Homo sapiens: one gene and its partner. The protein of the gene in region 1 interacts with the protein of each later gene in a biochemical or structural test. Each region holds a gene or a part of one and is shown in the gene's direction. Other genes may lie near its edges.

Region 1 (4,177 bases):
ACAGCCTCTCCTACTACTTTGTGCCAAAAAGCATCAAAAGCATTTTATTTACATGTAGTATTTCACCTTACCAACAGCACTCTGAAGTGAGCAGTACCATCCCCATTTAACAGATTAGGAAATTGAGGCCCAGAGAAGTTAAGTAATCTTCCAGAGTCACACAGTCAGCTGCGAAGGCAGGATTTGAAGTCCCCCAGCTCAAATGTGCTCTAAACCCCTGTGTTCTACCCATCAAGAAGTTTAAGTCACTGTTGTTCAACCTTCTGTAGTGGACCAAGATTTTCCTATCATCACAAAAAGATACAGTCAGGATTATGAGTAAATAAAGGGCTTTGAAAATGATCATTGGTGCCCACAGCACAGTGAAAGGTAGAAAAGCACCATGAGAAAGCATTCGTTTTGAAGACATGAGGCAGGAGCTGTAGCCCTAACATGTTTTTTTCCTAGTTGTGATATTGCATCCACTACTTGTCATCTCTAAGCCTCGTTCCCTCACCTCATAACCATCATTCTCAGTAAACTATCGCAAGAACAAAAAACCAAACACCGCATATTCTCACTCATAGGTGGGAATTGAACAGTGAGATCACATGGACACAGGAAGGGGAACATCACACTCTGGGGACTGCTGTGGGGTGGGGGTTGGGGGAGGGATAGCACTGGGAGATATACCTAATGCTAGATGACGAGTTAGTGGGTGCAGCACACCAGCATGGCACATGTATACATATGTAACTAACCTGCACAATGTGCACATGTACCCTAAAACTTAAAGTATAATAATAAAAAATAATAATAAAAAAGTACCATCACAATCAATGCAGTAATATAGCTGAATCTGCTTTTTTATTCTTAAGGCTCTAAGCAAATGTCAGCTACTCTATTATAGTTCAATTGTTTTCAATTCCACTATTGGCTTGCTCTTGAATCTTGAAAAATCTCTCCCGACATCTTAACTTTCTCATCTATAAACTAGAGCTGCTGATACAGCATCTTTTAGTAATACCCTCCAGCAGCTGTTCCGAAACTTTAGTGACCTAGAATCTTTTAGGATACTGTTAAAATAGATTCCTGGGCCGCTGTCATTATGACCAGCACAGCCGCATGGCACCTTGCAATACTCACTCTTTGAAAGGACCCCACTTGATTCTGATGTAGGTGAGCTGTGACTACTTTCTGAAAAAATGCTGCCCTGCAAGGTCAATATTACAAAGAACTGCAGTATCTGTGGATACAAAACTTGACCAAGATCACTTGCTCAGTCCATTACACAGCCAGCACTGAACCCTTAACTCCCAATATCTAGATCCTGTTCTTTTCACCCCATGAGTCTGACTCAGAGGAACATCAAAGCCATTTCTTGGTCACTGGGTTTATATTAAGGGTTGGGTCCTAGAGTACACAGCTGAAGCTTGCAGCACTCCAAAGACATCTCTAAAAGATTGAGTGTCATTGACTTTCTCTTCTTCCTCTGCAGACACATTTGCCAGCAAAGTGGCAGCCACCCAGGACCAGTATGCAGACGCCTCCATAGGTAACGTCACGGGCAGCAACGCGGTGAATGTCTTCCTGGGAATCGGTGTGGCCTGGTCCATCGCTGCCATCTACCACGCAGCCAATGGGGAACAGTTCAAAGTGTCCCCTGGCACACTAGCTTTCTCTGTCACTCTCTTCACCATTTTTGCTTTCATCAATGTGGGGGTGCTGCTGTATCGGCGGAGGCCAGAAATCGGAGGTGAGCTGGGTGGGCCCCGGACTGCCAAGCTCCTCACATCCTGCCTCTTTGTGCTCCTATGGCTCTTGTACATTTTCTTCTCCTCCCTGGAGGCCTACTGCCACATAAAAGGCTTCTAAAGGAACTATCAGATATAGTAAATTTATATATATACATATATATACATAAAAATTATGTATAATGGACAGAGGAAACTGACATTTGTCATGTTCACTTACCTGCTGATGGAATCCAGCTTCAAGAGCATACTCTGTACTAGGGCCGAAGTAAAAAACCATCACCTCCCATTCCCAGGGGCATCATCATGTTCAACAAGGCATGGAGGCAGGGCCATCTTTGCAGCTCAGTCTAGAAGGGCTGCACTCTCTCCAGGTTGATAAATCCTTAAGGCTTTGATTTGTTTTGTTTTTGGTTTTGTTTTCAGTGGAGCTGGGGAGGTAGTTAATGTTTGGCTTTATTTTTGTTATTTTGTTTTGTTTTGTTTTTTTGGGAGAGTCAGGGTTGTTGCTTTTCTTTGTGGAAAGTGAAACCATCCAAATGTAAATGGGTTTTGGTAAAAATTTAAATCATTAGTATTCCCCCTCACCTCCCCCAATCACTTTAAAACTTATTTTGGATTAAGAAAAAATCTGGGCATGGAAGAAGAAAGAAGCATGTCTTCATCGTATTACCAAAGTTCATGCTTATCTCCGGAATGTGAGTGGAGGTGAAGCTGCCTCCAAGAAGAAGCATAAAAGTGGAATGGAGCCAGGAAATCCGATGGTTCTAGAAATAGTCTGATATTTAAACATGTGATACCTGGCAGTCTCGTTTAACAGGTACAAGGAAAACGTGCCTAGATTCCCAGGAACGTGCAAAATCCTTTCTTTCTTATCTCTTTAGCTCTGGACTGTGATTGGCAAGGTCCTTCTTCCAGCATTCAGCCCAGCTAAGCCCCCAGGTGCCCCATCCCAACCCTGTTCCTCCTGTCCACCTGCCATCCCCTATGCAAACAGTAAGAATAACCCCATTCAAAAAGCACATCATCGTTTTCCATTTGCATTAACATGTGTCTCAGTCCCATGTTGCCGTTGCTTGGGATTGTCTGTCAGTTTTATTTTCAAAGGCATCCATGGCTTGCACAATCCTGTTCCAGTCATGACTGAACATTTGCTCCTTCTTCATGTGCCGTTCGGAAATGTTGTTGTGATACCTGTTACACAGTGCATGGTGAAAAACAAATAAAACAAAACAAAGAGTATCTGTATATAGTAGAGTATAGTACATACTGTTCTCCCATTTGGCAATGTTGATTGGACATTGAAGACATAAGTGAGTTTTCTTTTCACCTGAGTTGTTACTTTTGTGCTGTTATTGAGTTTGATTAATTACTAGGGATAAAAGGAGAAAATGGATTATTGTTCACGGTTCTGCACATTCATTTCTAAGAAGCAATAACTGTCATGTGGGGAGAAGTTAAAGCTATTGAGAGGATAGCAGGCAAACTACAAAGATCTTCATGGAAAATTAGCCATGTGGAACACATCAGAGGCCTCTAAAAATCACCCATTAATTCAGGAAGGCCAAGGAGAAAGGCCTTATAGAGACGTTGATATGTTGGATGTGCCTAGGCTTTCAGAGCCACCCTTTCCACAACACCCCTCCCTGCAAAGTATTTATTTCACATCTGCACTGTCTGGCACAGATGGTAGATAGTGCTGGTTTGTTCATTTTATTTTTTTACTTAAAAGGCTATTTTGAGCCCTGTTTCTTTCACTGTCCAGTCTAGTCCTCTTTGATTATATCAGTAGTTGCTGAGTAAGAAAGAAGCCAGGGTGACCAACGGGCCTTTAAAAGTGTTGTCTCCTCTACTTATGCTGAAAGAGAAGGCAATTAAATAAGACTAGTACCTCCCAGGAGGATTGGACTGGGATATTTTTAACCCTTTAAAAAGAATAGCTGTTTCTATGTTAAAATACCAAAGAACATGGATAAACCCAACATTCCAAAGTAGTGAGTCCACTAATGAGAAAAATAATAGAATGACTTTGGTCACCTCTCGGAGACTTCTGTGTCTATAAGGAATCCCAGGCTGGAGACATTCCTAGCCCTCTGTATTGATTCAAAAATACTTAATAAATTAAAGCTGTTGAGACTTATTTTTTCTTCTGTCACTCAGTAACCATGATCCTTCCTCATTTAATAAACATTTGGTGACTGAATGAGTAATTAAATGCTGGTTACCCACTTAATGTGCCAGGTAGTATGATACTTTCTGGGGACTAAGCCATGAACAAAACAGTCTAGATCCCTGCCCTCAGAAGGGTTACAGTTTATGTGATTACTATTTTCATGAGTAAAAGTGAAGAAAGCCATATGGAAAGATTTTTATCTTGCAAGAAAAAACAATTATGAAACTCTTTTAACATAAACACACTGAAACTGTATCAAAGCAATTGTCCA
Region 2 (4,716 bases), on another chromosome or scaffold:
AAAGATCAGGACACAGATCTTAGTTAAAGTCATAAAGACAAGAATAGGTGGATTTCAGAGCTCTGATTAACCAGGATCCTCTCTGGCTGGGTGCTCAGGAACACTAGGGCCTCCTCCCCTTACCCTCTGGAGCAGTGGGGAAGCCAGAAGGAGGGGCCCGATGTTCTGCTCAAGGACCGTGGGGTGAGGGTGTGGTGGTGCCACCGGAGGCAGAACTTGCCTTGCCTTCCTGGCTTGAGGGGCATATGGTGTACACGGCCACCACCAGAGGGAGCAGGGGCGGGCATCTCGGTGACCAGCCTCCCAGGGCTGTCACTGCCTCACTGGCAGGCATCCATGCAGGGCAGCTATGAGTCCAGAGGAACCTTTAGGCTGAGGGAGCTCCCTGACCCTCCGTTAGAGAGCCCCAGACTGAGACCTCAGAGAGACTCCCAGACTGGGAATCCAAAGGGCCATTGGCAGAGACATTCAAGAGGGGCTCCTGCACTGAAGGGCTCCCTTACCGTGAGAAGCCCTGTGAGGAACCCCCTAGCCTGAGCCTCCTCCTGAGGAACCCAGGCTAAGTCACTCTCAGAGGAACCCACAGGCTGAGAGACCCTCAGAGGGACCTGCAGGTTGAAGCCCTTCAGAGGAACTCTCAGAATGAGACATTGTTGGAAGGTCCTCTCCATTGAGACACACAGGGCCCCAGGTTGAGAAGGTGACATGAGGAGGGATGTAGTGGGGTGTGCTCTGATCTCAGCGTTTAGGAAAGGATCCTGGGAACTTTGGCTCTGGGCCGCACCCCATCCTTGCCCTGACTCATGCCTACTGCTCTGCCCTTCTTCCTACCCCCTCCCAGTGACTTCAGGTTCTAGGTGTCTGGGCCTGGGCAGGTGAGGAGGGCCACTGGGGTTGGGCTCTCTGGGATGTCATTCTGGGTCCTGGATGGGGGGCTGTTGCTCTGCAGCTGGGTTAGGGAAGGCATGGGGCTCTGAGGGAGGGAGAGAGAAACACGTGGCCCGACCAGTTTGGAGTTGGTGTTAGCTGCCAAGCAGCTCAAGTGGGCCTTGCATTTGTGCACTCTGGGCCGCTGAGGGGAGCTGAAGGGAGGTCAGGCAAACACTCACTCAATCTGCCTCCCTCCATCAGGCTGCCCTTCTCTGGCTTCCTCCTGATCCAAGTTCTCTACATTCATCTCTCTGCCTCCAGGACTGGTAAAGGCTGGGCTCTGGGATCCAGGCAGGCTTGAGTGTCAGTATCCAAGCTGGGCCTGACTGGGAGAAGTGTGCGTGTGCGTGTGTGTGTGTGTGTGTGTGCACGTGAGAGAGAGAGAGAGACAGACAGACACACATGGAGGGTACAGAGGCTCCTGCTTCTCCTTCCTGGTCACAGATTCAGACCCCCTCTCCTTCCCTGCCCTGCAGTTCGCCAGGGCCCTTCCACTTCCTAGGGTGACCCCATGAGGTCTCGAAGTCCTCTCTGTCTCCCCAGCCTTCTCGCTTCTCTTTCTCTGTGACTCTGCATGCTGATCGGAGGCCAGGGGTTTCCCAGCCCCAGCCCTCTGTGGCTCCCTCCTCGTGGCAGGGTCATGGTAGGCTCTGGAACTCTGGCCAGCGGAGGGTGGGGCCCATAAAGCTGGCTCATAGCCCAGGCTGCTGCAATAGCAGGGGTGGCTTAGGCCCAGCCCCCTGCCTCCCCTCCCTTCCCCCAGGTATAAGAGCTGAGCTCAGGTGAGCTGGCTCCTCCTGTCTTGTCTCAGCGGCTGCCAACAGGTAAGGAAACCCAAGGCTTTTCACCCAAATATACTGCCTGCTGTCCAGAGGGCACACTTAGGGTAAGAGCTGGGGGATCAGATCCTGGAGGTTGGTGTGTGTGTTTCAAGCAGAGGTGGGTGGTTGGAGGAGGTGGAAAGAATTAAGCTAAGGTGAGTTCCAAGGGATTCCCCCTAGATGCGTTGGCCTGGGGGATATGACCTTGGCTCCTGAAGCCCAGGCGGGGCCTGGGCCTATGTGGTGTTGGTTTTGAACCCCTGGTGAGGCACAGAATATCTGAGATGGAGCCAAAGGGGGCAGCTGAGAAAGAAATGCTAGACTCTCTCCTCAGCTCAGGCCTACCCCCTCCTCTAAGCAGATCATGAGCCATCAGCTCCTCTGGGGCCAGCTATAGGACAACAGAACTCTCACCAAAGGACCAGACACAGTGGGCACCATGGGACAGTGTCGGTCAGCCAACGCAGAGGTGGGCTCATTCACTCCTGGCCTTTCTGCTCCCACACTCCTCTCCTTCACCCTGAGGGTCTATGTCCCCCCACTGACTTCTGCCCTTCACCTTGGCCTTGCCCTGCACCCCAGACCCTGTGAGTGAGATGTGAACCCTCTTCTGAGGCCCACACAGGGTGATGCAGATGGAGTCCTCCTGGGAAGAGGATGCCTGGGTGCATGCTGGGACCTGCTCTGCCTGCGGTGGGGGGTGTGGGGAGGGAAGCCTTCCCCAACCTGTAGCTGCTGTGGCCTGGAGGCCGAGCAGGGGGTGGGGGAGAGGGGCTAGATTCTGGGCTCTGGAGTGGGTGGGAGCTGTGTGCCTTCCAGCTGCCTTCTGCCCTGGGGGCTTTGCTAGGCTCCTGGAGAAGCAGGGTTTTGGGGTGCATGGAGCTTCACTGATGTTTGTGATGTCCCCTGCCCTCAGGATGCTCAGGAATTCAGTGATGTGGAGAGGGCCATTGAGACCCTCATCAAGAACTTTCACCAGTACTCCGTGGAGGGTGGGAAGGAGACGCTGACCCCTTCTGAGCTACGGGACCTGGTCACCCAGCAGCTGCCCCATCTCATGCCGGTATGGACGGAGCACACCCCACCTCAGCCAGTACCCTGACTTCCCAAGCAAGTGCTCCGGGACCCCACCCACACTGGCACTTGCAACCCCCAGCTCTTCCCCCTTGCCAGTGCTAGGTAGCCTCTGCTCCTGCTGTCTGCCCGTGGGCAGGGTGGGGTGGGAAGATTGGAAGGTGCTGCATCCCTGAGCCATGGTTTCTTCACTCCCCTCAGAGCAACTGTGGCCTGGAAGAGAAAATTGCCAACCTGGGCAGCTGCAATGACTCTAAACTGGAGTTCAGGAGTTTCTGGGAGCTGATTGGAGAAGCGGCCAAGAGTGTGAAGCTGGAGAGGCCTGTCCGGGGGCACTGAGAACTCCCTCTGGAATTCTTGGGGGGTGTTGGGGAGAGACTGTGGGCCTGGAGATAAAACTTGTCTCCTCTACCACCACCCTGTACCCTAGCCTGCACCTGTCCTCATCTCTGCAAAGTTCAGCTTCCTTCCCCAGGTCTCTGTGCACTCTGTCTTGGATGCTCTGGGGAGCTCATGGGTGGAGGAGTCTCCACCAGAGGGAGGCTCAGGGGACTGGTTGGGCCAGGGATGAATATTTGAGGGATAAAAATTGTGTAAGAGCCAAAGAATTGGTAGTAGGGGGAGAACAGAGAGGAGCTGGGCTATGGGAAATGATTTGAATAATGGAGCTGGGAATATGGCTGGATATCTGGTACTAAAAAAGGGTCTTTAAGAACCTACTTCCTAATCTCTTCCCCAATCCAAACCATAGCTGTCTGTCCAGTGCTCTCTTCCTGCCTCCAGCTCTGCCCCAGGCTCCTCCTAGACTCTGTCCCTGGGCTAGGGCAGGGGAGGAGGGAGAGCAGGGTTGGGGGAGAGGCTGAGGAGAGTGTGACATGTGGGGAGAGGACCAGCTGGGTGCTTGGGCATTGACAGAATGATGGTTGTTTTGTATCATTTGATTAATAAAAAAAAATGAAAAAAGTGAAACATGTTGTCTTGACTGGACACCCCCTCCCTGAGGGTCCACGGGTGAGAGGAGCTTGGGGGTGAAAGGCAAAGTCATTGGTAGGGTGGGGCACGTGGGGCTGGAGTGGTTGGCTGTGGAAGTGAATGGGGACTCACTTTTCCCTATGGGTTTGGGTTGAGGGTGGTACCAGGTCCAAAAGGGCAACATGGTCCTCTCTGAGGGACAGGCTCCTCTTTGCCAATGGGCGGGCCCTCTTATAGGAGAGGAGGGTATGTGTGCACACTTGGGGAAAAGGATATTAGTCCAGGTGTTCTGAGCCCTGGCTGGCACAACCAGGGAAATGGGGTGGGTGGGGGTGGGGGGCGGTTAGAAACAGGCTGACTGGCCTGAGTTTGAATCTCAGATCTGCCACTTATCATTGGAATTTTGGGCATGCTCTTAGTATCAGTTTCCTCATCTGTAAAATGGGGGATATGAATATTACTTCCACAGGATTGCCAGGAGGACAATGCCACACATCATGTAAAGCACTTACAGAGAGCCTGACACATGGTGAGTGCCCAGTGACCCAATATCATTCCCGCTGGAGTGGGCAAGTGGGCCCCTCTTTGGTTTCAGCTGCTGCCCTAGTGTAGGGAGGTCGAGCTGGCCAGTTTCCTTGGGTATCTTAGGGAAACGGTGGGGTGTGGGGAGTTTCCAGAGGAGTCTTCTGGTGTACATGAGGGATCTTAGGGCTGGGTCTCAGTAGAGCTGATGGGTCAGACTAGAGACAGAAGACCAGGGAGCCAGACAGGTCCCTGGCATCTGCCTTCTGATTTGAGCACAGAAGTCGGGCGTTACTCCTGAAACCCCAGTGGCAAGGAGGTTTCTGTGGCCAGTTAGGCTGGCCTGGAATGTTAACTGAACTTGTCTGTTGGGAGCCCCTGAAACTGGGATCCCAGT

The links. The genes of interacting proteins can lie anywhere in the genome.
Region 2: the proteins of SLC8A1 (region 1) and S100A14 interact in a biophysical measurement, tested with the Homo sapiens proteins (one large-scale study listed by IntAct).

What each region holds. Positions count from the first base shown.
Region 1 is NC_000002.12:40,112,930-40,117,106, reverse strand, and holds part of SLC8A1 (sodium/calcium exchanger 1 isoform A precursor), read left to right. Parts: intron 1-1,477; coding exon 1,478-1,854; 3' UTR 1,855-4,177. UniProt on the Homo sapiens protein: Mediates the exchange of one Ca(2+) ion against three to four Na(+) ions across the cell membrane, and thereby contributes to the regulation of cytoplasmic Ca(2+) levels and Ca(2+)-dependent cellular processes.
Region 2 is NC_000001.11:153,613,333-153,618,048, reverse strand, and holds S100A14 (protein S100-A14), read left to right. Parts: upstream 1-1,723; 5' UTR 1,724-1,754; exon of another isoform or gene 1,755-1,816; intron 1,817-2,112; 5' UTR 2,113-2,190; coding exon 2,191-2,220; intron 2,221-2,667; coding exon 2,668-2,814; intron 2,815-3,026; coding exon 3,027-3,164; 3' UTR 3,165-3,794; downstream 3,795-4,716. UniProt on the Homo sapiens protein: Modulates P53/TP53 protein levels, and thereby plays a role in the regulation of cell survival and apoptosis. Depending on the context, it can promote cell proliferation or apoptosis.